Linked DNA regions of Homo sapiens: all the other regions are reported to be linked to region 4. Evidence: microRNA targets listed by miRTarBase, many of them from high-throughput screens and not tested one by one. Region 4 holds a microRNA gene; each other region holds the end of a gene's coding sequence.

Region 1 (6,068 bases), not on the chromosome of region 4:
TAGCTAACTAAGTCAATGCCTTTGGAGTCAGTAACCAAGTCTTTTGCTCCTCACAGAGGCTGACACCATGTCCTGCACATGGTAAACCCTGAAAAAATAGGTGATTCAAAACATCTATGCAGAGAGGTGGTGATTGAATTATATCAATGCCCGCTTTGTCTTCCAGGTGAAGGCTTCCATAATTACCATCACACCTTTCCCTTTGACTACTCTGCGAGTGAATTTGGCTTAAATTTTAACCCAACCACCTGGTTCATTGATTTCATGTGCTGGCTGGGGCTGGCCACTGACCGCAAACGGGCAACCAAGCCGATGATCGAGGCCCGGAAGGCCAGGACTGGAGACAGCAGTGCTTGAACTTGGAACAGCCATCCCACATGTCTGCCGTTGCAACCTCGGTTCATGGCTTTGGTTACAATAGCTCTCTTGTACATTGGATCGTGGGAGGGGGCAGAGGGTGGGGAAGGAACGAGTCAATGTGGTTTGGGAATGTTTTTGTTTATCTCAAAATAATGTTGAAATACAATTATCAATGAAAAAACTTTCGTTTTTTTTTTTGTTTGTTTTGTTTTTGAGACAGAGTCTCACTCTGTCACCCAGGCTGGAGTGCAGTGGCGCAGTCTCGGCTCACTGCAGCCTCCACCTACCTGGTTCAAGCAATTCTCCTGCCTCAGCCTCCTGAGTAGCTGAGATTACAGGAGCCTGCCACCACACCCAGCTAATTTTTTTGTATTTTTAGTAGAGACAGGGTTTCATCATGTTGGCCAGACTGGCCTCGAATTCCTGACCTCAGGCAATCCACCCGCCTCGGCCTCCCAAAGAGCTGGGATTACAGGCGTGAGCCACCGCACCCTGCCGAAAAAAACTTTTTTTTTTTTGAGACGGAGGCTCGCTCTGTCCCCCAGGCTGGAGTGCAGTGGCGAGATCTCAGCTCACTGCAAGCTCCGCCTCCCGGGTTCACGCCATTCTCCTGCCTCAGCCTCCCGAGTAGCTGGGAGCCAGCGCGCCCAGCCTAAAAAACTTTTCAAGTCAATATTACTACGATTTAACATTAGAGTGTGGACATGTGATTTAATCGCTATAGCTAAAATACGTCAAATATACGTTGTCATGTGCTTGAACATGATGCTAACCCTGACAGGATGAAGGAAAGTAATATTCTTTCAGTGTAGTTCAGGAGAGCATTTGTTTTCTTTTCTACCAATTAACCCATCATTGCTTTTAAACAACCATCTGAAGGAGCAGAGAGGCAGGGTAGAAGACAGAAGGGGGATCTATGTGGTAACTAAAGAATGTTTCTGTTTTGTTAATTATTGTGTGTGTGTGGTTTTATTGTTTGCTTAAGAGAATCAAAAACTGAAAAAAATGAGAATACAGGAAATGGCTCTTGTTTATTTTTTTGCTGTGTTTACAGCTTGTTAATGCTCTACTGTCTTTGTTTCAAGAGAGATTTGTTCACTGCCCAGCTCGTTTTGTGTCCTGAGCCCTATGGCCAGCCCACCTTATAAATCATGCCTGTTTAGATGTTTGATTTTGTTCTGTTTGCTATTGTTATCTTAAAGGTGTATAACTCTGACATGCCAGACATCAAATTAAGCTCAAATTAAGCTCTCGTTTAAATGTTTAAGCACCTAATTTATATTCTAATTGATCCCAGCCACTGATGCATGTACTTTAGCTACTTCTGCTAAATAAGCATATTAATTTTCCACATCAGACCATCAGATCTTGAGAACCAACAGTTATCTAGAATTCCGTGTCTACTAATGTTTCACCTGCATGCAGCCTTCATTAATTTTGTAGCAAAATATAAAGTGATCATTATGTAGCTTCTGGATTAAAAAAATTTGTGTGTGAAGTTGCTTTGTAAAGTGCATGTGGAATTAATGGGACAGTGTGCCCTTTGTGTTAGATGTTAGAGCAAAAGAAAGGGCTTATAGTGTTAGTATTGGAGCACTTTGAAGATAGATATTTTCAGAAAAGATGTAGGATTTAAAAGTTAAATTTTAAATTTTAGAAAAAGATATGATGGCAATTGGAAATAGTCACAATGAAGTTCTTCATCCAGTAGGTGTTTAACAGTGTTATTTTGCCACTGGTAATGTGTAAACTGTGAGTGATTTACAATAAATGATTATGAATTCATTGGTGTTCTTGTCCAGATACTTCAGTGCTGTTTAGAGAATGTTCTTTCCAGAGTGCTTGGTGCCTCATGATGATTGTATGACTCACATTGGGATTTGGGCTCTGGGCTAACAACAGCCCCTGAGACCAGCCCCTGAGACCAGGCCTGTCCTATCCTATCGGCCTTAGGCAACAGCCAGAGGAAGCCAGCAAGTTTTATTTGGAATGTAGAACTCCCAGTGGTATTGTTCCCTGATTCTCACTCACCAGCAGCCACTGGGAGTGCTTATAGATGATAATTGGGAATCTACTCCTATATGTCACCCAAAGGAGCATGAAGGACACCTTCCCCTCTCCAGGCCCCACCAATAGTTACCAGAGGTGGGGGAGATGGACTCCTGTTTTCACTCTAGTCCTGCCTCTCTCAACCTCACCTCTGCACCACCAAAGTCTCCACCCATCTTTTGCCCCAAAGCAGCTGTGGCTGTACTGTCAGGTAGAAGCTTCTTAACGTGTCTGCAGTTGAGTGGGATTCTAGCCATTGATGGGTACCAGGCTAGATCACATCATGTAAGGACCCTTTGGATGTGACCGTAGCATTTTTCAGCTGCTTCATATCCCAGTCACACATTGCTAAGACCTTGTATAGAGCGCAGGTGGAGGGTAGTCACATTCCAAGATAAGTTTGTATCAGCATGATGTGAAATGGCCCTTAATTGGGAATGTATATGTGAACCTTTGACTCCTAAAAGTACTAAACTTACTTACTTGTCCATTAGTCAAAAAGATGACATTTGGAACAGCTATTTGGAATCTTTTTACAAAAGGAGGGTATTTCCCAGCTAGACCAAATAAATCTAGAATCTCCTTCCTCTGAACCTGAGTGCCATCTTTTTTTCTGCAGCAGAGCCATGAATGACCTCGGATTGGAATGATTTGGAGGAAGAGTTGGACAAAGGTTAGATTGCACTAGTGTCTTCCCTGTTAACATTCCTTTCAGGTCTCAGCAGCATCTTAACAGAAAGTAGCTCTGGGAGTTATTTCCCAAACCTATCCAAGGTGGCCTTAGACTGATACATTGTTTGAAAGTTTCAGTTTAAGATAAAAAAATGGTCCCCCCATGTCCAGTCTTTAATCTCCTCATCCTCACAAGGCTTATTTCAGAAGCACCCACCCCTGCATCTAGGTGAAGGGAGCCCAGGGAAAGCAATTCCAATAGCATGTGTCCCACAGGCGTCATGGCAGAGTCATGGAGCCAGCCTGGGACAGTGGAGCCAACTCAAGTTCACCTCGAGTCCCCAACTCTGCTACTGGCCAGCTCTGTGGCCTTGAGAAACGTCAGCCTTTCTGGATTCAGTTTCCTTCTCTGAAAAGAGAGGACTCTTCTCTAAGGTCCCCTTCAGCCCTAACATTCGACCACAGCAACAGAGATGAGTCGGGCGTGTTCTCATATGCCTGACTTCAAATTCGAAACACCTCTCAAGTTAGCACTCATCCTTTCTGGACATAGAAGGTCAAAAATTGGGAGTGGGAGGGAGTAAGTGAATCTGAATGGGAGAACACAGACTGAGGCTGGAAGGATAGAATGTTCTTGGTTTTAAAAAATCTGCATATATTTTGTGCATTCCTAAAATGCAATAAAGCAATTAAATATAACCCATCATGAAAAACAATTTAATGAGAGAAATTATTACAGAAAGCTCTACAGCTTAATGGGGTAGTAGAAATAGCACTGGACTTGGAGTCCTGAGACCTGGATTTGAACTCTAACTCTTGATCTGACTGGCTGTGTTACCTGGGACTCAGGTTAAGGCTGAAATATGACATATGAAATTGTCATTTACTAGCCTGCGGAGCCTCTCTGAGCCTCAGTGTCCTTGTCTACACGACAGGAAGAGCAACATTTATGTGTATTAGATGAATCTGGAAGCCTCATCCCAGTGCCTGGGGCATTGCAGAGCCCTGGGAGACATCAGTTGAGGGTGAGTAGCATGCCCCACACACAAGCCAGAGACTGGGATATGGTGCAGAGAGCCATAGACCAGAAGTGAGCCAGCTTCTGGGCCTGGTTTTGCTAACTAACCAGATGGCTCTAACCTCTGGGAACTTTGGTTTCACTTTCCATAAAGGACCAACTGGATTGGGTTAACCTGTCCAGCTCTGCCGTTCTGGGGAGTCTTTGCAACCGTGTGCCTCCATCAGTTCCAGGCCTCCGCGTGGCCCTCTGCACCCCTGGCCTCCTTACTGTGCCTCGCACCTGTGTCAAAGGACAGGTCTGGCCTGCAATGTCCCTATGCTTCAGTCAGCTCATCAGGACCTGGAATAGATTTGTGGAGGGGAGAGGTTGAAACTCATGGATGAGAGTAAGCATTGGGGATTATCTGTGAGGTTCATTTGTCCATTTCACTCCTGTCCCCAATTACAAAGGGGACTGAAAACCAGTTGTGTTCTCAGTGGCTGAAAGAAATCTCCTAACCTTTATAATCCTTTCTTAAAAAATTTTCCCATTTTTGGCCAGGTGTGGTGGCTCACATCTGTAATCCCAGCACTTTGGGAGGCCGAGGCGGGCAGATCACGAGGTCAGGAGATCGAGACCATCCTGGGTAACAGTGAAACCCCATCTCTACTAAAAATACAAAAAACTAGCCGGGCATGGTGGCAGATGCCTGTAGTCCCAGCTACTCTGGAGGCTGAGGCAGGAGAATTGCTTGAACCCAGAAGGCGGAGCTTGCAGTGAGCCGGATTGCACCACTGCACTCCAGCCTGGGCAACAGAGTGAGACTCTGTCTCAAAAAAAAAAATTCCCATTTTTAGCTTAGGGTGTTAATCAAACTCCTTCCCCTTCCTCTACGTCAAGGATGTGCTATAAATGAACTGGAAACTCCTTTCCTTGTTCCCTCTGCTACTTCCCTGTGGACTGTAGAGTCCGAAGCCCCCATCCCACCCCAAGGATGTTCCTGACTTCTACATTTGCAACATCAGAAGCAGGAGGAGGGAAGGCCTGTCTCAGGGCAACAAGCCCGGCTGTCCCAGCAGCTTCTGTGGGCTCCGACACAGCCTTCTTTCCCTCTCCATTCACCCCCCGACCCCGTGGTGCCACGACTCCCCATCTGGAAGAACAGTCAGCCACATCCTGCCTGTAACTGCTTCACAGGATCCAAAAGGAAAATATCAGCTAACAGCAGCCTGGGCTAGCTGGGGCTGTGAAGACTTTGCCCTGCAAAAGAGTACCCTTCCTTACAGCTGCTGGCCTAGGTTTACTATGGAAAAAAGATGGCATTACCTTCAACCAGCCATCTGAATCCCTCACAACTAGGGATCTACTAATAGCTGCCCTCCTCCCCACTTGTTCTCAATCCTCTATGAGGCAACTCTCAATGTTACCATTGAATCTCAGAAGTTGCTTGCTTGCTTGCTTTCTCTTTCTTTCTTTCTTTCTTTCTTTCCTCTCTCTCTCTCTTTTTCTTTCTTACAAGGTCTCACTCTGTCACCCAGGCTGGAGTGCAGTGGCGCAATCTCAGCTCATTGCAACCTCCCCTCACTGCAACCTCCACCTCCTGGGTTCAAGCAATCCTCCCACCTCAGCCTCCCCAGTAGCTGGGACTACAGGTGCATGCCACGATGCCCGGATTTCTGTTGTTGTTGTTGGGGGTAGAGATGGGGCTTCACCACGTTGGCCAGGCTGGTCTCAAAACTCCTGACCTCAGGTGATCCGCCCGCCTTGGCCTCCCAAAATGTTGGGATTACAGGTGTGAACCACCATGCCCGGCCAGAAGTCTCAGAAGTTGCTTTCTTCTAGAGGTACCAACTGTGAGACAGAGCTGGCAACCCCTGTGCTGTGGGTGGACAAAATGACTGGGCCCACCACAGCAAGGGTGTGTTTGTAGTTTTATGACCAGATTTCACATAAGCCTGTGCTCACAGCACATGTATCGCAAAACACA
Region 2 (6,143 bases), not on the chromosome of region 4:
CTTGGCCTGTAGTGCTGACAAATGGAAGCCAAGCAATTAAAGCTGAGAAAATGGGTTACAAAATCTTACAGCAGGAGACTCAGATCAGTTACAAGGAATTTACTGTTTGGGTTTAGAAATAACTGAGACATCCTTTTACCTGAGATGGATCAAGTAGAGCTCAATATAGGAAGGAGACAGGAGGAAAGAGAGAGATGTAAGTCCCCAAACCACCTTCCATCCTAGAGTTTCTGAAGACATGAGAAGTAAACTACCACTGCTAAAAAGTCAAGGTTAAAACATGAACTTTCAACTTCTCTCCTGGATATTCAGGGCTCACCTCTCCCGGCATATATTACTCACACTAATCAGGCAGCCCGCAAATAATTATGTATTTCATAGTTCTTTGAAATGTTCATTTCTTCCATCTGTGTTGCCCCAAGTAACATTATGAAATGATTCATAAGAAAGTGTGGCAGACTATCTCGTATCACCAAAACTCTTCCTGCATAGAGTGCAAAGGGATAAAAATAACTAAAATCACTTTGTTAAAGTTTCTAATCAACACTAATTTTTGACAAGGGTCTTTTTTTTCCTTTCCGTGCTATTTTTCATTACCTTTTATCTCTTTTACAAGTACAGAGTGTATAATTTCATCTAGAAATTGACTGTCTCGTTGTTTTAAGCAAAAGAAAATATTTTAAAATAAACAAATAATCCTTAAGGAGAGTGGAAAATCTGGAGGCGACACAACTAGGATCACCATAAGATTGTTTCTCGTGTTATTCCTAGCAATTTGGGAGGTAATCACAAACACTCGAATGGCTAGGGAACAGAATTTGGAAGGATGTGGCTCTTCTAGATCAACAATCAAAGCTCAATTGAATTTTTATCACAATGAGTCAATCATTCTGCCCCTCATTTCTCTCAGTTCTAACCTGAGGAGAGCCTTTGATACCATCCTTTCTTGCCAAAGGTTGAACGGAATGTTTAACTCAGTTCAACAGGAATGATGGTAGACACAGTGCGAGTGGCTGGAGGTTAGATGGGCTGTAGGAAGGATACTCCTTGGATGAAGGCAGACACACCCTACAGAGCTGTTCCGCTGAGCCAGGGGAGCACACCAAGAATAAAAAATGCTGCAGATGCCAACTCTTGGCCTGTTTGGGGATTTTTTTTTATAATAGCACACAGTAAATGATTTTTCCCATAGGTTATTTGATTAGCTATTGCTCATGATGATTCAAACTAAGAACAAGAGACTTCCCCCATCCGCAAGTGGGGTACATATGAGTTACAGGCAACAAACTCCTTGGGTCCACTAAGATTGAGCTGAAAACTTAGGTTTAAATAATACAAGGTGGAGATGAGATACATAAGTCACAGAAACAAATATATGATATACACAGACAACCAAGAACTGCTAATGGAGAGCTTTAATCATCACATGTAAAAGCAATACATTCATATATCAAAATTGGCTCCAAATTCTTTATCATCATCACCATCAACAGTCTAGAAATGAAATGACACACTAATATAAAACTTTCCTGTTTATAACTAAAAGATTTATGAAACTTTTTTTTTTACCCTGAGGCTGATATCACCAAGGTGAAAAAGAAAAGTCATTATCAGCTGGAATGTATTCAATATAGAGTTTTAAAAACCATTTATCATTATTCTAGGTTTATGTCTATTCATTCTCCCCACCCACTCTATGGGATGATAACAGGAAAAGATGGCAAATGGTTGTGTCCAGTATTATTATATACTGGTTATATAATTCTCAAATGTACTGATTATATGATTCTCGATTTAATCTACTTACCAAAACAAAGAAATAAAATTTTAACATCCATTAACTCTGTACTATCATATTTTAAAATATGTATCAAAATCAGTTCTCTCTTATAAAAGAGGGGTTGGCAGTACATTCTCAGACCAAACAACAACAACAAGCCCCAAAAAACCGGTATAGTACCTTCTTACAATGGCTACTGCAGTGCATTCTACATATTTCATAGAAACCAACTAGGTAAGTTCAGCGTTCGCAGAGATTGCCTCACAGATACTTAGCTCTGGGTTCCTAGTCACCTTGAGATAAGATCTGCAAAGTCTAAAAGAAAAACAACTCCCAAATGCTGTAACAGTTTTTCCATTCAAGTGCTGAGAGAGCTATGCATATAAAACTTGAAAAAAGATAGCCATGTTGAAGGGAGGACTATTTTAATGTGGTTTTTTGGTATGTAAATTACAAATAAATCGAAAAAAAGATTTTCAAAACCTGAATTCCTAATGTCTCTAACATTGTTTTTTGTGAACGGGTTTAGAGCCATGGTATGCTGCCTCTCACAAAGCAGCCTAGTGACTTTGTCTCCAATTATTTTCATGATAATCTCTAGATGCTTTTTAAAGCGCTTTTTCTAAATATTCTCAGCACTTCATCTAAACCAGCAGCTGGGGTGCATACCTGAGCCAGGAAATCTTTGTTGCCACTTTGTTTCAAAGTATTGTACATGCAATGTCCTGGGTACTACTTACCTCCCACTGCACAATTACACATATGCTGGTCTATAACGGAAATCTGGGATAGATGGCACTTTAAGAATTACTATCCCTAATCTGTCTGCACTCTTTGCTTTTATTATTTGTAGATCCCTTTCTAATTCAAATGATTCAAGTGAGCAATATAAGCATAGACACTGGAATTTTTCTAAGAAGTTAAATTGTGTACACTAACTCTCAGCCAAAATTGGGTGAGGATAATAGAGAGAAAATTCAGCATTAGAAGGAGTTAAGAGAAAAGCTTTCTGAAAAAGGCTTGGTATACGTGCTGTCTTTTAAAGGCAGAATCATAGAAAATCAGGCCGGGTACAGCGGCTCATGCCTGTAATCTCAGCACTTTGGAAGGCTGAGGCAGGCGGATCACCTGAGGTCAGGAGTTTGAGATCAGCCTGGCCAACATGACAAAACCCCGCCTCTACTAAAAATACAAAAATTAGCCGGGCATGGTGGTATGCACCTGTAGTCCCAGTAACTGGAGAAGCTGAGGCAAGAGAATTGCTTGAACCCGGGAGGTGGAGGTTGCAGTGAGCCGAGATCACACCACTGCACTGCAGCCTGGGCAACAGAGCAAGACTCTGCCAAACCAAAAAAAAAGAAAGAAAAAGAAAAAGGGAGGAGGGAGGGAGGGAGGGAGGGAAAGAAGGAAGGAAGGAAGGAAGGAAGGAAGGAAGGAAGGAAAGAAAGAAGGAAGGAAGAGAGAGAGAAGAGAAGAGAAAGAGAAAGAGAAAGAGGAAGAGAAAAAGGAAGAGAGAGAAAGAGGAAGAGGAGAGGAAGAGAAGAGGAAGAGGAAGACAGAAGAGAAGAGAAAGAAGAGAAGAGAAAGAGGAGAGAAGAGAAGGAGGAGAGAAGAGGAGAAAAGGAAGAAAATCAATGTGAGAGACTCTTCACCATCACATGGGCAATTCCCCATCTGGTACTTAACTCCTATGCAACATGCCCGCCAAGTTGCTGTCTCGCCTCTGCTAGAATACCTTTAGGGGAGGGAAGCTGTTCCAACACTTCTCATCTTCCTTACAATGAAACAGCAAAACAGATGGAACAGGTAAACAAATTTCCACTAAACATGATTAAGAATTATATCTAACTTTTCAAGAGAGTAGGTTGTCAACAGCTACTTCAAAGGAGAAACCAGATTTGTCTCAAGCATCCCATGCTTTCTATAATGTTTCAAAATGGAGAGATACAAATTTGAAATATGAATTTTAGAAATCATTGTTGAATAGCTGTGTGTGCTGCAGAGGGGAAGGTAAAAAAAAATCTTAGAAGTGATCATTGTAGGGACTCTTTTTAAAACAAAAGGAAAATAAATGTTTGAATAATAATTTAAAGTTTCACTTTGAAGATGCAATAAACACCTTGCACAGCAAGTCGTGGTGTAAGAATCCAAGAGCCCTGATGGATGAAGTGTAGGCTAATGACATTTTGCAGCAATTATCAATTCAGATGTGGGAGACAGAGGAGAATGACAGGATCAAGTCTGAGGCTGCAGCCTGCTATCCTAAGGCAACTGGAAAGTGGGGCATTCTACCTTGATTTTCTCCTTCTGGCTTGTTTGACAGCACTGCAAATAATTGTCTTGTTTCTGATTTCTCTCAAGGTGCTCAGACTGTTTCAGAGTTTTAAATCCCCCCTTCAGAAGACCAACAAAGCAACAGATGGATTGGTGGATGATACTACTACCTGAATTCAATTTACAAAGGATCAATTCCTCTAAAGGGACACATTTATGTCTGTATTTTTTTTCAACATTTATACGAATAAGTCTATTTAAACTAAAATCATTTATCCTGATAACACACACGTAAACTTTAAAGATCTCAATGACCACATTAGTTGAGACTCAGCTGATTCCATTTTGAATGGTATCTTTCACCCCTATGTGTTAAAACATCAATGATATCAACTTTTAACAAACAAGACTACAAGAAACAGGCAAAAACAAAACAACAAAAACCAACCTTGAAGTCAGTATGTCTTTTTATATGGAGGCCACTTTTTTTCATATCTGTTTCAAAAGTATCAGATAATTAACATTTAGTGGCTAGATGACTGAAGAGCAAACCTTCCTGCAAAAAAGAATAAAGCTTCCTTGACCACCGAGATTTGGAAGTGAAATCAATGAAAGTCTATCAAGTACTCAGGATAGATTTGGTTGGCATCAAAAACCACAAAGATCTTTGGGTTCCAGGTATCATCCACACAGCTGTCATATAAATTCACATAGCTCCCGTCTTTGGAAGGAGGTCGCATGTATTTGGAGTCTCCGTTTATGTAATCTCCAATTAGCACTCGAGCAAGAAACATAGATTTATATGTTCTAAACAGATGCCGCTGTTGCAAGCTGACACCATGAATTTGGAATGTGTTCCCATGCTTTATGTCATCTTTGCAGAAACGACTGGAATAAGCAGCATCTCTAGCAAAATAGGTTCCTTAAACAAAGAGGACCAAGAAAAGCCAAGATTACTCCGAAGAATATATTAAAAACAAGCAAAAACATTTTGTCAGGAGAATAGATGCATAGAATTGTATAATAAAAATAGATGTGGAATTTCCTCATCTGCAGATCTTTAAGAGAAGAATAGAAATCCATCTGTTATGGACAGCTGTAGTATAGACTGCCATAGGAATAGATTTGTTGGTACAGACCAGTCCTCACCACCAACACCATCCCCTGCCCCCACCAAAATATAGCTATCAGACTTCTGTTTTTAAAATAAATCTTACAAAGAAAACAATTAATAAAACAGATAAAACTGGTTTAATGATTAAAAGTGTGGTTGGACCTGAGTTTTGTTTTGTTCTGTTTTTTTGAGACAGAGTCTTGCTCTGTCTCCCAAGCTGGAGTGCAGTGGCGCGATCTCAGCTCACTGCAACCTCCGCCTCCCAGGTTCAAGCGATTCTCCTCCCTCAGCCTCCTGAGTAGCTGGGATTACAGGCGCGTGCCACCACACCCAACTAATTTTTATATTTTTTTAGTAGAGACAGGGTTTCACCATGTTGGCCAGGCTGATCTTGAACTCTTGACCTCAGGTGATCCACCTGCCTCGACCTCCCAAACTGCTGGGATTACAGGCGTGAGCCACCATGCCCGGCCCTGAGTTTTACTGCTTGGCCCTCCCTCCCGTTTCTATTTCCTTTCACCACTTCCTCACCCTGTTCCCTTGTCAACATCCAGCAAAGCTCTAGAGAGCACAGTGGAAACCGATGGCCTACAGGGATTCTTTTAAACCCCAAGAAACCGTATTTCTATGATATGGGATAACAATTCAGTAATATTTCTGGAAACAATAGAATCCCATATCCATGAAAAGATTTCTGAGAGAGTATAATGCTATTCATATCTGAGCATTCCAAAACAAAAATGATTTTACTGGCTCACTGCCTACACATGAAAACTCGATAAAGCAGCCAACTCTTCTGAAATGGTAGACACAAGAGATAGACATCATTAAGGGCATTCTTACTCTAAAAAAATGTGGAAATGAATTGCAAAGTCTCATATTTACCTAACACTGATGGGATTTATGTAACACCTTCTGACCTCCTTACAGTTAAATAAGTGGAATGGCCTTTTTAGTAGTTATTTTTTAAATTAA
Region 3 (5,953 bases), not on the chromosome of region 4:
TTCTTGATATTGTCCAATGTGGGCACCCCAGGAGGGAAAGGCAGCTCAAGACCCGAGGAAATATCAGGCTGATGGCTGGGGCAGGCCCGGAGCTGGTAGTGTGGCTGGGGAGCTTCCTCCTGGAAGCAGGAGAACCGAGCCTCCCCCTGCCGCGTGCAGCACCAGTGGGGTCGGGTCTTGACCGAGAACTCGGCCTCACAGAATCGGCTCATTGCTTCCTCCCACTAGAGCAAGAGGGGAGGATCAGCCCACTTTCCACATTCCTGCCTTCCTCCCAGGCTCCAGGAAAGGACACTGGGCAGGCAGATAAAGAAGAGACAGTGGTTGTCCTCTGCTCCCCTGGCACATTGGGGAGGCCCAGGGTAGGGCCAGTGAACGGGACCTGAGGTTCCTCCAGACCCAGGCCTAGTGCTCTAACCCTTAAAACACACATACTGTCTGGGGTTAAAGGACACCCCCCGGCATCAAGAACCCAACCTTACCACAAGTTTGGCACACTCTAGGCGGTTTGTGTGGCTGCGGCAGTGGCAGCAGCGGGAATATCCAATCTCCAGGAAATTGAGGGTCTCACCCTGGCGAGTGAGGTGGGAGTAGCTGGACTGTGGTAGGTTCCAGGGACCATATACCACATGCTGACGGTTAGGAAGGCAGATTTGGTTCAGATTGTCTGGAGAAGGCCGCCCAGGGGGGAAGCCATCCAGCCGGTGGCCCCAGCCCCCTTGGGACCGGTCCTGTTGGCAGTGCTGGGCTGCATTCCAGGACTCAGGTTCTGGATGGCTCTGGTCCCCAAATGGAGCTGGCGTTCCTGGAATGGGGAAAACAGTGGGAAGCGGGGACATGTGAAGGAACCCACAAAGGCTGGATGAGCTGGGAGGATTGAAAGAATCTGGGGTGGAGGAGAAAGGGTTGGGAGGATATAGTGGAAATGAGAAAGAACAATTTGTGGCTCTTCCTTTTAAAATAACTGAAAGGAAAAGAGAAGCGAGGTGTGAAAGGTGTCAGCTCACAGCCTGCCCCCACCTCCTCCTGCTTCTCAAGGCTCGGGCTTCCTGCTCCTCTCCCCAGGGTCCTGAGCACTAAGGCAGGAGGATGGACAGACCAAAGCTGTCACTCACCCTCTCTCGGCATGGAATGGATGATTATCTCCTCCTGATATGGAAGAGGTGGGTCTACTGGGTAGAAGGAGTAAGCAAAAGCCATGTTGGGATGGCCATCTCTAGCAGAGAAAGCCTGGCTAGTTTACATGCACAAAGAAGAACTCAGCAGAGAAGCAAGTGAAAATAGATGCTATTTTTGCACATCTAATCACATAACTTTCTAAAACAGGTATATCCTCAATTTTACAGATGAAGAAACAAAGGCTTGGAGAAGTATGTAACTTACCCAAGGTTATACAACTGGTGAGTGGCAGAGCCCACCGTCTTGTCTGCCCCGAAGCCCATGCTCTGGGGGAAGGCCATGAGGTAAAGGTGGGTAAAGAAGAGAGGGAGCTGCTTACCTTCCTTCTGTTCATTGGGGTGCTGGAGAGAGGGCAGCTCTTTTTGGAGGGGGACAGCTTCCTGAGGGAGAGGGGGACCCACTGCAAGATAGGGGTGAGGGCACCAAGGAGCAGGGATCAGCCTGGTGTCAACAGGATCCATAGTGGGATAGAGGTGAGGGAGGGTGGGCAAGCGCTCACCTTCCTTTTCAGCAGGGAGTTGGGCAGGTAGCAGCTTTTCCTGTTGGAGAGGGGTGGCCTCCTGAGAGGGAGGGGGCTGCACTATAGAAGGGGGAATGTGTGAGCAGCCCACCCTTTCTCCTAGCCAGGGCTGGGAGTGGGGGCGAGGGCCTCTTCCCTCCTTTCCACCTGAAAAGTGGGATATAGGCCAGATTAGAAACCTGGAGGGTCACTGAGGAGGGCATGGGATGGTGACCTTACCTTGACTCTGTCCCTCAAAGGGAGGGCCATGCTGAGAGGAGTCAGGGTGATCCATGGGGAGGCTTCGGGATAGGGGTGGGGAGGGGGGAGCTGCGTAGCCAACTAGAAGCAAGAGGGGAGACATCAGAGCCCACAGTGCCTCCTGGAGTCCCAATCCCATGCTGCTCCCCCAAACTCTTACCTTCTTGAAAGTGCTCTGGCCTCAGCTGCCTCTGTCCTGTAGCCGTGAAGCCTGGAGGGAAGAAGGGCAAGTCAGGGGCCACTGGGAGGGCCTTCCCTGGACTTCAGCAAGGGATGGGGAGGCTGTGGAGATCAAGAGTGTAGGACAGACAAGCAAGACACGAGATGCCCCTCTGTATTCACCTGCCCCGTGTCCCCTAATCCTCTCCCAGCCCCAACACACCTAGACATGACCAGCTGGGTTCTGAGAAAGCCTGTGGCGGTCTGATAGCTCCACCTCTACTGGCTCAGAGGTTGGGCCTAAAGGGAGTATGGCATACGGGATTGGGGAGGGAGGCCCTCATTTCCTCTGCCAGTCTTTCCCTCAGGGCTGTGGGTTGTCCTCCCCAGTCTCTGCTGGGATGCGTCTCTAGCTTTCAGAGGAAAAAGTCTGGACCTTGAGCTGGTTGGAGCCTACCCAATCCACCTCCTCCACCCACCCTCCTACTCCAGGCCCTTGAAACATCTTTAGGCCTTTGGTTAAGGAGGCTTCCTGAAGGTTGAGTGCTTCCCCTTCAGCCAGTCTCAGCTCCGCCTTAGTTTAGGTCTCAATTTAGGGCCTGGGGGACTGGGACAGGCACAGGGAAGGGTCACTTGTAGGTGATCTGCAGACACAAAAGACCAGGAGCTGGGAAGAATGATGGCATGGGGCTTCACAGAGAAGTGGACAGATTTGCTGACATCCTCAGCAGCTTCCTGCAGGAGTGCCCTGGGTGGTTTTTTTCCTTTTCTTTTCCTTTTTTTCTTAGTTTCCACCCATAGCATTGAGGGGTTCCTGTTTTGTTCAGGCATCAAAGCAGATAAAGAATGTGTTTGTGCTGGATGGAGGGTGGGTCTGTGGATGGACACCCCTCAACTCCTCTAATCAGACAGGGAGTCAGTCGAGGCTTGCTGGGCCAGCAATCCGGTTTTGAGCAGCCTGGGGGCCCCTTTTCCCTCCCTTGCCTCTCCCACCAGCCACCTCCCTACATCCTCATCAGCAGGAGACCCTCACTCTGTGAACCCACCCCCCACTCAGTTGTCTATTTGACTGGGATTCTGTGTTTCTTGGCAGCAGTTTCTAGGAACCCCTCTCCTTCTGTGCCCCTGCTCTCTGCCTCCTTGGTTAAAGGCTCCACTGGCCTAGGCCCACTTTGGGCCTGCTCAGAAAAGGAAAGCCAAACGGAGAATCACTCTGCTAGTGATGAGCCGTCTGGGATGCCTGGACCCAGACCCCTGCCATGCAAGCCCAGACCCCCTCCTAAGTGCTGATCCCCCAACTCACCTCCCTCAGAGGCAGCAGAAGCAACAGCCAAATAGGTCAAGACCAAGGCTGCTCTGGCTGTGGTCCCCATCCTGGGGCAACTGACCACTGGACACTCAGAGGTGGGTCCTCTCAGGCAAGTCTGGATGTGAAGGGCCGGCCACTGAAGCTTGTCTGGTGGCTGTTACGGTTGTGAGCTTCAGGACCAGCTCTTCTTTTATAATTGTCTGGTGTGATCTCCCGCCCTCCTCAGCTTCCTGCCATGACTCAGTCCCAGCTGCTCCTCCTCTGGAAGCCACTCCTCCCAAAGTCACCCTGAAGCCTCCTCAGAGGATTGAGAAGAATGGGACTGATTAGAGGAGAACATTCTTATGACCTTCAAGAGAAACTGATTCAGAGAATCCAGGAGCAAGAGGTGTTTGAGCCCCTAGTTTGTGCCTCAGTTTCTCCATCTACAGGCTGCCTTCTGTGGAGAGGGGATCTGCCAACTCATGAACTGGGGTTGGGGAAACAGGGCACAAAGGAGTTTACAGCGGGGAGCAGGAAACCTATCCAAGGGATCTCCCCTACCAGTGTGAGGTCTGGACTGTCCCTTTTCAATTTCCCTAACTCTCTGGGACAAAAAAGAGGGAGACAAAGTGGAACATCCTTTTATCCCACCTCTCCAGAGTCAGAGATGAAGACATATGACCAGCAGCTTCCAGTTTGTATTTATTTATTTATTTATTTATTTAGAGACAGAGTCTCGCTCTGTCGCCTAGGGGGGTGCAGTGGCGCAATCTCAGCTCACTGCAACCTCTACCTCCCGGGTTCAAGCGATTCTCCTGCCTCAGCCTCCTGAGTAGCTGGGATTACAGGCGTGTGCCACCATGCCCGGCTAATTTTTTGTATTTTTAGTAGAGACAGGGTTTCACCGTGTTAGCCAGGGTGGTCTTGATCTCCTGACCTCATGATCCGTCCGCCTCAGCCTCCCAGAGTGCTGGGATTACAGGCATGAGCCACTGCGCCTGGCCCAATTTATTTTTTTTTGTAGTTTCATTCTCCTCACATCCAAACAGCTACAGCTTCCCTCCTTTTGTGGGGTCCCCAAACCAAGTCTCTTTTCAGGAGAGCAGACATGTGCCTCCACACAGTTCTGAAGTTCTGGGGGCTCCACATTGTCAGCTGGGTTGGGGTCTCCCATGTGAGGGAGGCTGATGGCACTCGCAGGTTTTTGCCTCATCTATGTACAAAGGCTCAGAAAATTTCTTCGGCATTTGGGACCCTCGTGTTCTGTAGCTCCACCAGTCGCTGCACAGCCTCAGGCAAGTCCCACTCCCCAAGGCGACGATTATCTCGAGTCCGAATGTTCACTGTTCTCTTACTTTGCTCTTTCTGGCCAACCACTGCAGGTAGAGGAAGTTTGGGAACCTCAGGGCAAATTCACCCACATGGAACAGTTTCTTTTGCTCTGCAGAAACTTGAGAGACCTAAATCTTTAGGAAGGGTGGGAGCAGAGCCCAGATATGGTTCACAGAAAGGAAGTATTCAGCTGTGTCTGCTAATACTAAATGACCAGTCCTGCTCATCCTGAGGAGACAAGGAAGTGCTTCAGTCCCCGCAGGCCTTATCGCTTCTGGTCAAGAGCCCCAGGGTCAGAGACATAAGAGTCAAGCAGAGAAAGACAAACACTGAGAACCCCACAGAGAGAAACTGTGTGTGTGTGTGTGTGTGTGTGTGTGTGTGTCAGAGACATTAGAGTCAAGCAGAGAAAGACAAACAATGAGAACCCCACAGAGAGAAACTGTGTGTGTGTGTGTGTGTGTGTGTGTGTGCGCGCGCGTGTCTGAAGGGGGTATTAGAGCAAGTGGAAGGTGGCAGGAGTGGTGTGGCCTTCACACTGCCCCGCCTCCCCCCAACCACTCTGACCCTTAGAACAGTTTCCTCTCATCAGTCCCACTCTGGCTCTTGGTGTCTGTTAGGGCTGGATTCACAGAGTGAGGGGCCTCTGCTGAGGAGGATGTATGCAGGGGCTGACTGGGCGGTAAGGGAGGGAAAGGGGCCATGTACAAGTCCCTGGGATTGCAGCACAGCTTGCTCTGGGTGCTTGTAGGGAGAGTGGGGTGTGCAAAACTCAAGAATCAGGTAATCTGGCTGAGGAGTTTCTGCTCCTCACCTTTGAGATAGAGCCCTGAACCCTGGAAAATGAAAAAGGGAGCATGGCAGTGCCAGAATTTTCTCCCTAAGGCCTTTCTCCTCATCCCTTAGGGCTGATTCCATCTAGGTCTAAAATAAACAAGGGTAATTAACGCTGTATTAACCCTCCCGTCCCTTTCTCTCTGATGCTCCCTTGGTTAATTAACCTAACAGACACCAACAGCTAGAGTGGAGTTAAAAAGAGGAAAACTATTTTGAGTGTCAGAAGTGGTTATGGGGAGGGCAGGGCAATGTGAAGGAACACAGGGCCCAAATGAGTCAGGTGTCCTGAATCCTGGCTCCTACCTGCTCAGGTAATGAGCCCCAATTAACCCAAATATGCATTACCAGACTTGGTAAACTTAACAGCAAGAATGCAGACGGCAGGTGGGAGAACA
Region 4 (6,143 bases):
CCAGCGGACCTCAGCTGCCTGGAGCGGGTGGGCAAGAGGCAAGGTTGCAGGTGCCGGAAGGGGGCCAGGGAGGAGTCAGGTGCGCAGTGGTGCCTGCAGCGGTCGGGAGCCAGGCTGTACCGGGTCCAAAGCCCCTCTCGCCCTCCACCTCACCCAACCCCCTCCACACACCGCCGGATACTCAGTTAAGTTGGATCGGCGGCTGCAGGGGCAGCTGCATCTGTTCGGTCTGTGTGTGCGCGCGCGGGAGCAAGAGAGGGCCCCCTTGCCTCTCCCGCCGCTTTCCAGGATCCCGCGGCGCTCCGCTACCTCGCTCTTCTCCCGCAGCTAAGTTCCCCGTCCAGGTGGGTGCGTGCGGTTGTAGGAGCGCCCCGGGCACCGCCGCAGACCCTCTTCCTCCTCCATCCTCCTCCAGCGCCCCTGCCAGCCTAGGCTCCTTCCCGTCCCGCTTCCCAAGGTCACTATGGGGACGCGAGGGAGGGATTTGTGTTTAATTCCTGCCGCTATTCAGAGGGAAAAGAAAATAAAGGGACCAAAGGCAACCAGAAAGCAGTTTACCTCAAGCCTTTATTATTGTAGATTGAAAGAAGTTTATATACAGGAAATATTTCCAGCAAAACACTCACCAAATGGCCTTCGAATCAGGGGCCCTCCACCTCCCAGCCCCACAATCAGCAGCTCTGCCTAGGACTCCCCTCACTTGGGGACCTCAGGCTCTCCCCCCACCTCTCTTTCCCCGGACTCCATCACCCCAACGTCATTCCCCAGGAGTCTCAGCTTTTTCTCTCTCCCTGGGGCGCTGCGAACCTCGCCAATGCCTCTCAAGCTATCTTCCTCTGGTCCCAAAGCAGACACCCCAACTTCCCTCCCATTTAAGGTGGTTACCTCACGGAAACCCAGAGCACCCTCCCCCTCAAGGTTTAGGTGCTGCTTTGAGGCCCCTGCAATTCAGAACTAGCTCGTGGTCAAGACCAGTTAGAGATAGTTCGTCATCAGCAGTGGGGCTCCTGTGCACCCAAAACAAGCGGGGGAAACTACCCTGCCCACCCCTCCCCATCCACGACATCACTTCCCCTACCAGGGACAGGAAACAGACACAAAAGCAACAGGGAACCCCCTCTCCGCGCGCGACAGGTGGGTGCCAGGCAACTAGCTCAGCTGAGCTGAGAGTCTCCTGGAACCCAGCTGCGCTCAGGGCGCGCGGGCGTGGCCAAGGTCTCTGTGCAGCTGCGGGAAGCACCGGGCCAAAGCACTTGGCTGAGGGCACGCTGGGGAGGGGGTGTAAGAAAATGCTGTAGAGGCAAAGTCCTGGGGGCACACGGACAAGGGCAAGCCATATCCCGCGCTCAAAAGAGGATTTCCAGTGAGCCAGGCAGGTGTGAATGAGACAGTTACAGAAGCAGAGTCCCAGGGAGGTAGGGGAGATTGTTCATGTGGCTGAGGGTGCAGACTCAGTCTGAAATGGTGGCTCAGCACATCAGTGTCACTGGGGCCTCGCCAAGCGTGACTTGGTTTGAGGCGCTTGCACGTGGGCTTCGAAGGCTCGAAGGCCCAGCCCACCAAGTTCAGTCAATTGTCCGTTGGATGTTTACACCCTCCGGGGCCGAGCGCCGTGCAGTTGCTCATCATAGCGTTCCAACCAAGTGCGCAGCTCAGAGACCTGGTAGCCGTCGGGGCCACGGCCGCCCTGGTACATAATAGTGCCACTCTGGATGACATAGAGACGCTCGAAGTAGGCGCCATAGGCCGAGCTGCTGGAGTTGGCCATGGTGTCGAGGACCAGAGCGCAGCCGGGTGCACCTTGCTGCAGTACCCTCGCTGCGCTGACCCGGTCCTCCAGGCTCCGGTGCTGTGGGATGATGTAGGGAGAGTCCGTGGTGACCCAGCCGTCGGAGGGGTGCGCTTCCTCGATGTAGATGATGAGGAAGTCGACGTCGCGCTGGTACTTAGTGACCAGGCGCTGGAAGGCGCTCATGCGCGCCATGAACGGTGGTCAGGTGCAGCTGCCGAAATTGAGAACCAGCGGGCGGTTCCCTTGCGCGTAGTCGAGGATGTGCTGGCTCTGGAAGCCGTCGGGCAGAACCACCTCGGAGTTGGGCGCCGGACCGCCCTCGTGCGCCTGCTTGAAGAAATCCAACTTCTGGCCATGCCACACCGCCTTGAGCGACGCCAGGGTGCACAGGCGGTTGTCGTCGGACACGCAGATGGGCGGGTCATCGGGAGGCACCTCCTCGCCTTCACTGTTGAGCTCCACTTCGGGCTCGGGCTGCCCCCGGCGGCGGCGGCCCAGGAAATGCTTGCGGATACACAAGAAATCGAGAAGCCAGAGCATGAAGGCCGTGCCGAGGAAGCGCGGGAAGAGCACGAGGCACGAGGCGGTCTGGGCGCAGAGCCTCAAGGAGTGAAGCAGCAGGGAGCGGAGCATGGTGGCTGCAGGCCCCGAAGCCCCCTGGGACCCCTCGCCCTCTCCGACCACCAACCGCGACGTGGCCTGGCGAGGCATCTGGGCTTCAGCAGTGCAGGGAGTTCAATTTATAGCGGAGGCTTCAATTGGCGGGAGACTCCACCTCCGGCCCGGCCCGCCCCCTTGCAACTTGAGCCCGGAGGGATCACCCAGCAGCGCGGCCAATGCCCTAGAAATCTTGGGCTGAGGGCGGGCGCAGGCGGGCGGAGGGCGGAGCGGCCGGGCCTGGGGCCGGTGGGGGCGGGCCCGGGCCCCGCAGCCAGCTCTCGGGGGCGGGGGACTCCGGCAGCCGCTGCCGCTGGGGACCGGGAGCCCGACCAGGGACCTGGGCGTCCGCTGGGGAGGTCCTCCAGCTGGCGCGAGCGCTGCGCGCCGCCCTGGTCCCCGCCGCCTGGCTCCGGCCCGCGCCCCCCTCGCCGCGCACCTGAGCCGAGCTCCCCGGCGGCCGCCGAGCCGCGCCGGAGCTCCGGTTCGCTTCCCGCGCGCCGCCGCCAACGCCGCCCACGCCGCTGCCGCTCGTGCGGGGCCGCTGCCCAGGTGCCGCGGGAGGCCGGGTCCGCGGCCGCCGCTTCGGTGGCCCCGGCTCCCGCCCCACCGAGGACGCGGGCCAGCGAGGAGGCAACTTTGCGTTCCCGCCGCCTTCCTGGCTCGCCCGCGGGCGCCGCTCGCCTGCCGGAGCCCGCCCGCCCGCCTCCCGCGCGCGCTCACACTCGCGCCTCGCACACGGCCGCCCCCCGCACCGCCCCGCCACGCACACCGCGCTCCGCGCCCCCCGCCGCTGCCCGAGGCTGCCGCGCGCCGCCCCAGCCCGCGCCGCCCTGGCCGCGCCCGCCCCGTCCCATCTCGTTCCAGCGGGGCGCCGCGGTTCCTGGGTCAGCGGCCGCCGGGGCCGGGCTGAGAGGTGCGGAGGGCAGAGCCCGCGGGCGGGTTACCGCCGGGCGCCGGAGACCGGAGAGCTGGGGAAAGCGGCGCCGGCCCTGCGCCCCCAGCCGACCCGGGCGCGGGGCGCCACGGGCGTGGGGCGCGGGGCAGCGGGCGCGGGGCGGCGCCGGCCCCGGGCGGCTCTCCCACTAGGGGTAGCTGTTGCCTGAACGCCGGAGCGCTCCCCTCTCGCCGCTTGCCTCGCCCAGCGCAGCCCCGGCCGCTGGGCGCACCCGTCCCGTTCGTCCCCGGACGTTGCTCTCTACCCCGGGAACGTCGAGACTGGAGCGCCCGAACTGAGCCACCTTCGCGGACCCCGAGAGCGGCGGCGCGACTCACCGCGGAGGCGCCCGGACGCGTCAAGTGCGTACTTTCAACCGTAAATGGGTGCTGAGCGTTTAGGGGTGCGGGGCAACTCCCTAACTCGTGGGGCCCTGGCCGGCCCTGCCGCGGCGTCCGAGACCTTCTGATCCCTCGCTGCGCGCGGCGCGGGGTTGGCGACTTGGGCTCAGGGGCGGCGGGGCGGGGAGGTGCCTTGACCTAGGGACCCAGAGGCCGGGAGCAAGTCTCCTTTCGCCTTGGACTGCAGTGTCCCCCAGGGCAAGGCCTGAACCAGGTCGCGAGGGTCTGTCTCCCGTCTGGGGAGCTGAACTGCCCGAGACACTGTCGCAGTCGCGGGGACTTGTCTGGAGCGGCGGGGTCTGAGCCCAAGTCGGAAGCCGCCGCCGCCGCCAGCGTCCCGTGCGCCTGCCGCCCCGGGACCAGCCGCGAAACTTCTTCTCGGGACGGAGACAGCGCTCGCCGCCCGGGCCGAGGTAGGAGCTGGCTGGGCTCGGTAGAGCGCGGGCGAATCGCTTTCGGCAGCGAAGGAACGTGTCGGGAGAAGCCAACTGCAGGACCAGGGCCCCAGCGGGCGCGCAGAGACGCCTGCCTTGGGCGGAGGTCCCCCCCTCCGGTTTTCGTGGCTCTGGTAGGGCCCTCTGTCCCGTGAGCTCCTCACTGGACCTGAGGCTACAGGCTTCAGCAGGTCAAGCGCCCGAGTGTGCCTGGAGGATTGGCGGCGGGGTGGCATGAGAAGGTGGCCCCTCTTCTCCATCTCCCAGTCAGGCGATTTCTCTGCTGTCTGGGGCAGGGGCGCACACCCCAGGAACTTACTACGTAGAGGGAAGCCAGCCTGGTCTCTCCCCCTTGCGTCAGTGCTCCTAAGCTGCCCCTCACCACTCTGGGTAGGGGTCTTTCAGGTGGGCTAGGGAATTCTCCTTGGAAGTCCCCTTGTTTGCTCCCCTCCATCAGGGCACCTCTGAGTTAGCCAATCATCCTCTTTTCTGGCCTCTTTTTTGCGGGGAGGAGAGTAGAGAGAGAAGCCTCCTACTCGGCAGGTCTCTGAGAGGAGGTTTGGGGGGGCTTCTGAGGTTGCTCCTCCTGGGCAGAGTCAAGGGGTGTTGAGGGTTCCAACTTTTACTGGACAATCTCTCAAGCTCTGATTCCCTGATTTCTGGGAGGTGTCAGTGTAGGGCTTGTGTCCTGCCCCACCCACACAGCATTTGGTGCAGGCACATGGGATGGTTCCCCAAGCCCTTTTCCCACAGTTAGTTTCAGAAAATGCATAAGCCACCTAAGGCTGGGAGAGCCTTTCTGTGCTGGCTGAGATCTGGTGGCATGTGCATGCATATGTGTGCAAGTGTGTGTGTGTGTGTGCAAGTGTGTGTGCGCATGTGCATGTGTGTGGAAAGTATGGTCTGGGTGGCTGTAAGACTGGCCCCTCTTGTCCCCTCTGCAGGCCCAGCCCAATAGGAAGCACCTGATCCACACTCTTTCTAGCCCCAGGGATGCTCAGGAAAGCAGCCTTTCTTTAGGGCTGTCATCTGTTCTGGGGATCTGTTGCTGTTTCTTGGGCCCACAGAATACACTCCACACCTCGGGACTCCATAATATTGGACAAGGCTGGAAGGCCCATTTGGCTCCTGCAGCCTCTTATGCAGGTGAGGACAGACCCAAGGTCCAGGCAATGCTGGCCTTTGGAACACAGAACCTGGCTCACTGACTCCCACTCCAGTTGTCTTTTCCCTCTGCCTCTGGAGCAACCCTCTCTCCTCCAGAGCAACCCCTGTCCCTCCTTCCTACCTCTCTCTAGGGCTGCACCCCCAGCTCACCTTAGACCTGGCCCTTCCTACCTGTTGCCCCTACTGTCTTGTCCCATCCCAGTGGTCAGGAGGGAGAGTACTGGCCAAAGGCCCAGCTCCACCTGTGACTTAGGGGAGTGCCAGGCATCACCCAGAGGTCCCGGCCCTCGGGGGCCTGGCAGGCTCTGCTGTGGGGGAAGCAGAGTTAGAACTGGGGCTGCTTCTCCTGTCCCCCAGCCTGGCTGGGCCTCCCCCACCTCCCTTTCTGCCTGCCCTCTTACAACTCCAGCAGGGGGCGGGCAGGGGAAAGAAAAGGAGGGACAAGTTGGATGGGGTCCATTTGGTGTCCAGGAACAACTTGGAGAGAGGCGGGGAGGGGACAGGCAGCAGGGCCCTGGCAGAGCCAGGGGAGGGCTGGCCTTTGGATGGCCTTCTGATCCCAAGCCCATCCTCCTGGGGCAGTCTTCCCTTGAAAGGGAGGGTTTGGTGAACCCTGGTGCGGACCCCCCCGCCGGACCTCACTGCCCCAGTGCGGGGCGTGGTAGGCGGGTTTGCAATGGGTACAGCCTCTCTCTCCATTCCAGTAGAGCAGCTCCCAGGGCCCAGAGAGGCTGTCACTGAGACTTCCCTCTGGG
Region 5 (6,143 bases), not on the chromosome of region 4:
TTCTTTTTGCTTAGGATGGCTTTGGATATTCTGGGTCTTTTGTGGCTATTTTAGGGCTATTTTTTCTATTTCTGTGAATAATGTCATTGGTATTTTTATAGGGATTGCATTGAACCTGTGGTTTATTTCTGTAGTTTACACTTAAAAGTAAGATGACAGAATGTCTACACAGAATCCTCACAGATATAAAGTATAGATATTGCCCATCACATTTTCAGTTGAATGAAAATGGGATGGAAATAGGAATAGAAAATCTATTTTCTATAAAGTAGGAATAGAAAATCATAGCCTGTACTAGAGACCATGGAGAAATTAAGGGTCCAATGAAGGGAGGTAATATACACAGTTTTAACACATTTCACCAAGGCAATAAGTCATTTCTCTTATAACACACAAACAAGAGTAGGGCTAAAAATAGGAAGAAGAAAACAAAATCTCAAAAACTGGCTGTTCTGTAAAAAATGAGTAAAATATGGTTAAAAAAAAAAAGTGCTGCCCAATACCCACTCTCACCAGGTCTGTGGTCTGCATATGCAATAAGAAAATAAGATGGCCCAGGCGCAGTGGCTCATGCCTATAATCCCAGCACTTTGGGAGGCCAAGGCGGGCGGATCACAAGTTCAAGAGATCGAGACCATCCTGGCCAACATGGTGAAACCCTGTCTCTACTAAAAATACAAAAATTAGCTGGGCGTGGTGGTGTGCACCTGTAGTCCCAGCTACTCAGGAGGCTGAGGCAGGAGAATCACTTGAACCCAGGAGGCAGAGGTTGCAGTGAGCCAAGATCGCGCCACGGCACTCCGGCCTGGCGACAGAGGGAGACTCCGTCTCAAATAAAATAAAATAAAATAGATATAAAAAATATTGTGAGATAGGTATGTCACCTTTATCTGCAGATTATATAACTATAGAGCCCAAAAGAATCTATCACCTTATAAGCAGAACTCTAATAAATTTTCAGGTATTACTAGCATATTTTAAGTATTGTGAGACATCACAGTAGATGGTGTTATTATTAGATATTAGAGAGTCAAGAGGATGAAGAGTTATAAAAGAAACCTCAAGATGTGTTAATGAATTCCATTCAGTGTCAATTGTTTATTCATGTAGGATACTCTGCATTTAAACTGAATGAAATTCAAAATATAATCCTAATGGGGTTTTCATTGGAAAATAAATGAGTCAAAAATTCTCATGAAGAAACATCTTTATTTCCAAATAATAAACTATATATTAATAATATATACATACATCTTTATTTCCAAGTAATAAAAGCTATTGAAAAGTGTCAAGGATTGCTAGAATATGGAGAACAGAAATAGATGTGAGCATTTAATATACAACTGATAGTATTTTAATTCAGTAGGAGAAAGGTGAATAATAGTTACTTCTGGCATAACTGGTTTTATTCCTGGATAGAAACAAGTCTGACATCCTGCATTAGATCGTATAATCAATTCCTGATGTATTAAAATATTAAATCTCTGTGTATACACACTCACAGAATCACATATATGAAAAACTGCACTCCACTCCTTTATTCTCTTGCCCTCTGAAATCTTCCAGAAGCAAAACCTTCCTAGGAAACATAGAAAACACTGGAAATGACGCCGGGTGCGGTGGCTCATGCCTATAATGCCAGCACTTTGGGAGGCCGAGGAGGGTGGATCACCTGAGGTCAGGAGTTCGAGACCAGCCTGACCAACATGGAAAAATGCCGTCTCTACTAAAAATACAAAATTTTCCAGGCGTAGTGGCATATACCTGTAACCCCAGCTACTTGGGAGGCTGAGGCAGGAGAATCTCTTGAACCCGGGAGGCGGAGATTGCAGTAAGCCAAGATTGCGCCATTGCACTCCAGCCTGGGAAACAAGAGTGAAACTCTGTCTCAAAACAAAACAAAGCAAAAACACTGGAAATGACTTGGGAAGCTTATTTTATAGAAATAAAACAGACAAGAATACAAAGTGTTTGTTGCAGCATTACTTTTAGATGGCAAAAAAGCGCAAACAATCCATAATATCACAATTGGGAAAGTGGTTGAAAAGGCATTGGTAAATAACACTGTGGAACATACTGTAACCATCAGAAAGACTGTTAGATCATCATCTATTGAAGGAAAATCCAAAATGTACAGTTGAATGTAAAAAAGCAAATTTCAGGGAAATGTATAGTTATCCATTTTTCTGTAAAAACATAATAAAATAATTGTGTGTTAATGTTTTAGCATGAAGAAATATATGGGTAATATACACAACCTTTAAATATTATTCAGAAGAAAATTGACAGAGGGGAGGGAATGAGGAACGGAGAAGGGCAAAGATAATCATTTTTTCTTTCTTTTTTTTTTTTTTTTTTGAGACAGATTTTTTGAGACTCTGTCATGCAGGCTGGAGTGCAGTCAGGATCTCAGCTCACTGCAACCTCCGCCTCCCGGGTTCAAGCGATTCTCCTGCCTCAGCCTTCCGAGCAGCTGGGACTACAGGCACATGCCACCACGCCCAGCTAATTTTTGTATTTTTAGTAGAGATGGGGTTTCACTATATTGGCCAGGCTGCCCCCTGCCTTGGCCTCCCAAAGCACTGGGATTACAGGCGTAAGCCACTGTGCCCAGCCCCTTTTCTTTCTCTTTAATGGTATTGTTTCATTAATTTGGGTGCAAATGCACTATCTCTATAATTTTAGATGAAGAACTTTATAAAAGACATAAGCACACAAGAAAAGAAAGTAAACAAAATCTCATTTGGCAGTTTTCATTTTGATAACGCAAAACATTACAACAGTCCATTTTTAGTAATTCTCTCATTTGCAGGTATTTTTGCTCACTCTACTTTTCTCAAATTTATTATGAAATATTTTACTTCCTTATGCCAGTAAAGTAAAGTAACACAATGTTCAGAGAGACCCGTCTACACAGGATCTAAGAAAAAAGGAAGTGGGGCATAAAATAACAGTTCTACAGACATAAACTTCATCCTTCCACATATGCGATCTGTCCAGCGTGGGGAGCTGCTTGCTGAGCATGTTTTGAGCACAGGGAAGGCCCATTTCAAAACACTAACTTAACCCCAAACAAAGCTACACTGTGGACTTTTTTTTTTTTTTTTTAATAGTCTCATTCTGTCGCTCAGGCTGAAGTGCCATGGCGTGATCTTGGCTCACTGCAACCTCCACCTCCTGCATTCAAGTGATTCTCCTGCCTCAGCCTCCCCAGTAGCTGGGATTACAGGCATGTGCCACCATGCCTGGCTAAGTTTTGTATTTTTGAGTAAAAATGGGGTTTCAACATGTTGGCCAGGCTGGTCTCAAGCTCCTGGCCTCAAATGATCCTTCCATCTCAGCCTCCCAAAGTGCTGGGATTACAGGCGTGAGCCAAGATGTGTACTTCTATATAACTGAAATAGTTCCTTGAACATTTGATAAAGTTTTCCTTAGAAAGAAACTGGATTTGGTGCTTCATTAGTAATAGTTAACTGATCACATGCTAATTTTTCCCTGTTCTCTGTGTTTATGAGAGTCTTTGAAGAGTCCTAATTTTCTTGGAGTCAATATTGATGTATATTTTCCTTAAAAACCATTTTGTTTAAATTTTCAAACATATTAGAAAAAAGCATAATATTCAACAGAACCTTTTAAATCTGTAACTATGTTTCTATCTCTGTCCATTTTTTAAATATGATGCTGTTTCTCTTTTCATACTTTTTTTCCTCATTAGTGCACCAATATTTTGCTTATGTTCTCTTTTCTTTTTTACTGGGTATATAATGCGACAAAAAGAGTATTAGTCGGAATAAAGTCCTTCACACACATTATTCACAGTACTTTCCCCCCCAACACCTAGGATTATTTCATGTTCAATAGTAAGTACATGATGATGGGAAATTTTCTTAACTTGTTACCTTCAAAGGGTCTTTCTTCAGTCAAACACCCTGCCTAATGGTGACTAAGTTCTGCAGAAGTTAAAAAGCCTTTCTACAAATAATAATACTGATGATGATGAATATAATAACGATGACTAACATTCAGTGAGTATGTATTTATCATGTCAGGCACAATTCTAAGCACTTTATCGATCTTAATTCATTTAATCCTCACAAAGCATTATGAGGTAGGTATTATAATTATCCCCCATTTTATAATTTTTACTGAGACACGCATGTATATATGAACAGAAAAATGATCAGCAATAAATAATGAACTGATAAAGACTATCCTTTGGGATATGGTCAAAGGGTACATTTGCCTTTTTGTAATGTTTGCATCTTTTATAAGGAAAATATATTCACACATTACTTCTGCAATTAAAAGATATGATACAAAGATGTGCTTAGGGAGAATGTCCAGCAGGGACTTGTATTTTGGCATGTATTATGGCAAAATATCTAGAGGAGACTACGATATCCACCAATAGGATTTCATAAGTGATATTACAGTAACACAACAAAACACCATGAAGATAATGAAGAATCTCTATTGAGTAAAATGTCGTTCATGAACATTTTTACAATAAGAAAGCCTTAATGTTATAAAGAACAAAAAGAATAAGCCATCTTCAAAAATAAAGAGGTCACTTCTCCCAGGTACTAAAGGTATTTTTAAAATAGTATACAAATCAGGATGTAAACAGATGAAATTTATAGCCATATAAATTTAATATGGATTAAAATACTAAGAATGTAACAATTAGAGAAATTAGGGGAAAAAATGACAATCACAGGACTACATTTCTACAAAAATTCTCTGACGTTAAGAAGGTTAGAAAGGTGTTAAAAGTGCTGTCATTTTCAGTATGACAGACTGAATTATCTATCATATTGCTAGACTGAATTATCTGATGTCAAGAGAAGTAAGCGTTTAGTTAAGGGCTTCCAAAGTATATTCTATTCATAGAGTATTTCTCCAACATTATTTTTCCCAGGCTGAATAAGCTGTAGTCCACAAATAAAATGTTTCTACATTATTCTATCTAGAGGAATTATTAACAAGATAAATTCTGTTTTGAGCCATAATTAAAAGCCTCCCTACACATTTCATATATTCTGTTTCATCACCAGTACAAATTTTGATGCTGAATAAGTTGTGGGTCATAATTAAAGTTCTTTCCACATTCCCTATATTCATAGGGTTTCTCACTAGTATGAATTCTATGATGACTAATAAGCTGTGAACTCTGAGAATAAGCCTTCCCACATATCTTACATTCATAGGGTTTCTCCCCAGTATGAATTCTCTGATGTCTAGTAAGGTCTGAGCCAGAACGAAAAGCCTTTTCACATTCCTTACATTCGTAAGGTTTCTCACCTGTATGGATTCTTTGATGTTTAATAAGTTGTGAGCTCTGACTAAAGGCATTGCCACATTCCTTACATTCATAGGGTTTTTCCCCAGTATGAATTCTCTGATGTTGAGTAAAGTTTGAGCCACTACTAAAGGCCTTCCCGCATTCTTTGCATTCATAAGGCTTCTCACCTGTGTGAATTCTCTGATGTCGAGTGAAGTTTGAACCACTACTAAAGGCTTTCCCACATTCCTTACATTCATAGGGTTTCTCACCAGTGTGAATTCTGTGATGTCGAGTAAGGTCTGAGCCACAAATAAAGGTTTTTCCACATTCCTTACATTCAAAGGGTTTCTTGCCAGTATGAATTTTCTGATGATGAGTGAGTCTTGAGGGATGTCTAAAGGACTTTCCACATTCCTTACATTCATAAGGCTTCTCAATGGTATGAATTATCTCATGTGTAGCAAACTGTGAGCCATGTCTAAAGGTTTTCCTATATTCTTTAGATGCACAGAATTTCTTTTTACTGTTAATGATTTGCTGTAATGTGAAGGATGGATGGTGACTCAAAGTGGGCAGATCTTCATGAGTGAATACCAATTGATTGAAATGTCCCCCCTGAGAGCCGAGTTCTTTCTTAAACTGCCGATTACATTCCCAATCATCTCTGAAACTGGAGCACTGAAAATCACGTCTTGTGAGTTTTTCCATTATTTCCCACTGGGTTGATTCTATTTCATAAATTTCTTTCTTCAGAAATAATTTCTTGGTCTCACATCTTGATTCCAGGACTGAAAGAAAATATGAAAGTAATCACTCACATTTTTCTTGTTTGGGAGAAACAAAACTTCAATCAATATGG

What was found. Region 4 holds the annotated microRNA hsa-miR-1247-3p (CCCCGGGAACGUCGAGACUGGAGC, at 3,651-3,674, shown strand). A microRNA usually pairs through its seed, bases 2 to 8, with sites in the 3' UTR of a target mRNA and lowers its output. Matches are read on the target gene's strand: a 7mer-m8 pairs with bases 2 to 8, a 7mer-A1 pairs with bases 2 to 7 and ends in A, and an 8mer does both.
Region 1: the mRNA of SCD5 is a reported target of hsa-miR-1247-3p. Seed matches in the 3' UTR shown: 7mer-m8 at 950-956.
Region 2: miRTarBase lists PARP11 as a target of hsa-miR-1247-3p. Seed matches in the 3' UTR shown: 7mer-m8 at 3,049-3,055.
Region 3: the mRNA of TARS2 is a reported target of hsa-miR-1247-3p. Seed matches in the 3' UTR shown: 7mer-A1 at 4,184-4,190.
Region 5: the mRNA of ZNF566 is a reported target of hsa-miR-1247-3p. Seed matches in the 3' UTR shown: 7mer-A1 at 2,432-2,438 and 7mer-m8 at 1,812-1,818.

The regions. Positions count from the first base shown.
Region 1 is chr4:82,625,616-82,631,683 of GRCh38, reverse strand. SCD5 (stearoyl-CoA desaturase 5) reads left to right here. Exons shown (of 5, transcript NM_001037582.3): 5 at 167-2,145. The coding sequence ends at 357. Among named protein-coding and RNA genes, the nearest start is that of LINC00575, 7.2 kb to the right of the region's middle.
Region 2 is chr12:3,807,464-3,813,606 of GRCh38, forward strand. It overlaps PARP11 (poly(ADP-ribose) polymerase family member 11), which reads right to left. Exons shown (of 8, transcript NM_020367.6): 8 at 1,398-4,976. The coding sequence ends at 4,660. Among named protein-coding and RNA genes, the nearest start is that of CRACR2A, 57 kb to the left of the region's middle.
Region 3 is chr1:150,505,728-150,511,680 of GRCh38, reverse strand. It overlaps TARS2 (threonyl-tRNA synthetase 2, mitochondrial), which reads right to left. Exons shown (of 18, transcript NM_025150.5): 18 at 4,079-4,765. The coding sequence ends at 4,617. ECM1 (extracellular matrix protein 1) reads right to left here and starts at 3,572. Exons shown (of 10, transcript NM_004425.4): 1 at 3,402-3,572; 2 at 2,100-2,150; 3 at 1,919-2,020; 4 at 1,679-1,759; 5 at 1,499-1,579; 6 at 483-805; 7 at 1-224. The coding sequence starts at 3,471. RefSeq lists an enhancer at 317-1,187.
Region 4 is chr14:101,557,857-101,563,999 of GRCh38, reverse strand. MIR1247 (microRNA 1247) reads left to right here and starts at 3,578; the gene lies at 3,578-3,713. DIO3 (iodothyronine deiodinase 3) reads right to left here and starts at 2,505. Exons shown (of 1, transcript NM_001362.4): 1 at 548-2,505. The coding sequence starts at 2,503. The coding sequence ends at 1,589. It overlaps DIO3OS (DIO3 opposite strand upstream RNA), which reads left to right and starts at 3,578. Exons shown (of 2, transcript NR_152588.1): 1 at 3,578-3,748.
Region 5 is chr19:36,443,930-36,450,072 of GRCh38, forward strand. ZNF566 (zinc finger protein 566) reads right to left here. Exons shown (of 5, transcript NM_001145344.1): 5 at 1,190-6,072. The coding sequence ends at 5,048. Among named protein-coding and RNA genes, the nearest start is that of ZFP82, 28 kb to the left of the region's middle. RefSeq lists an enhancer at 5,122-6,143.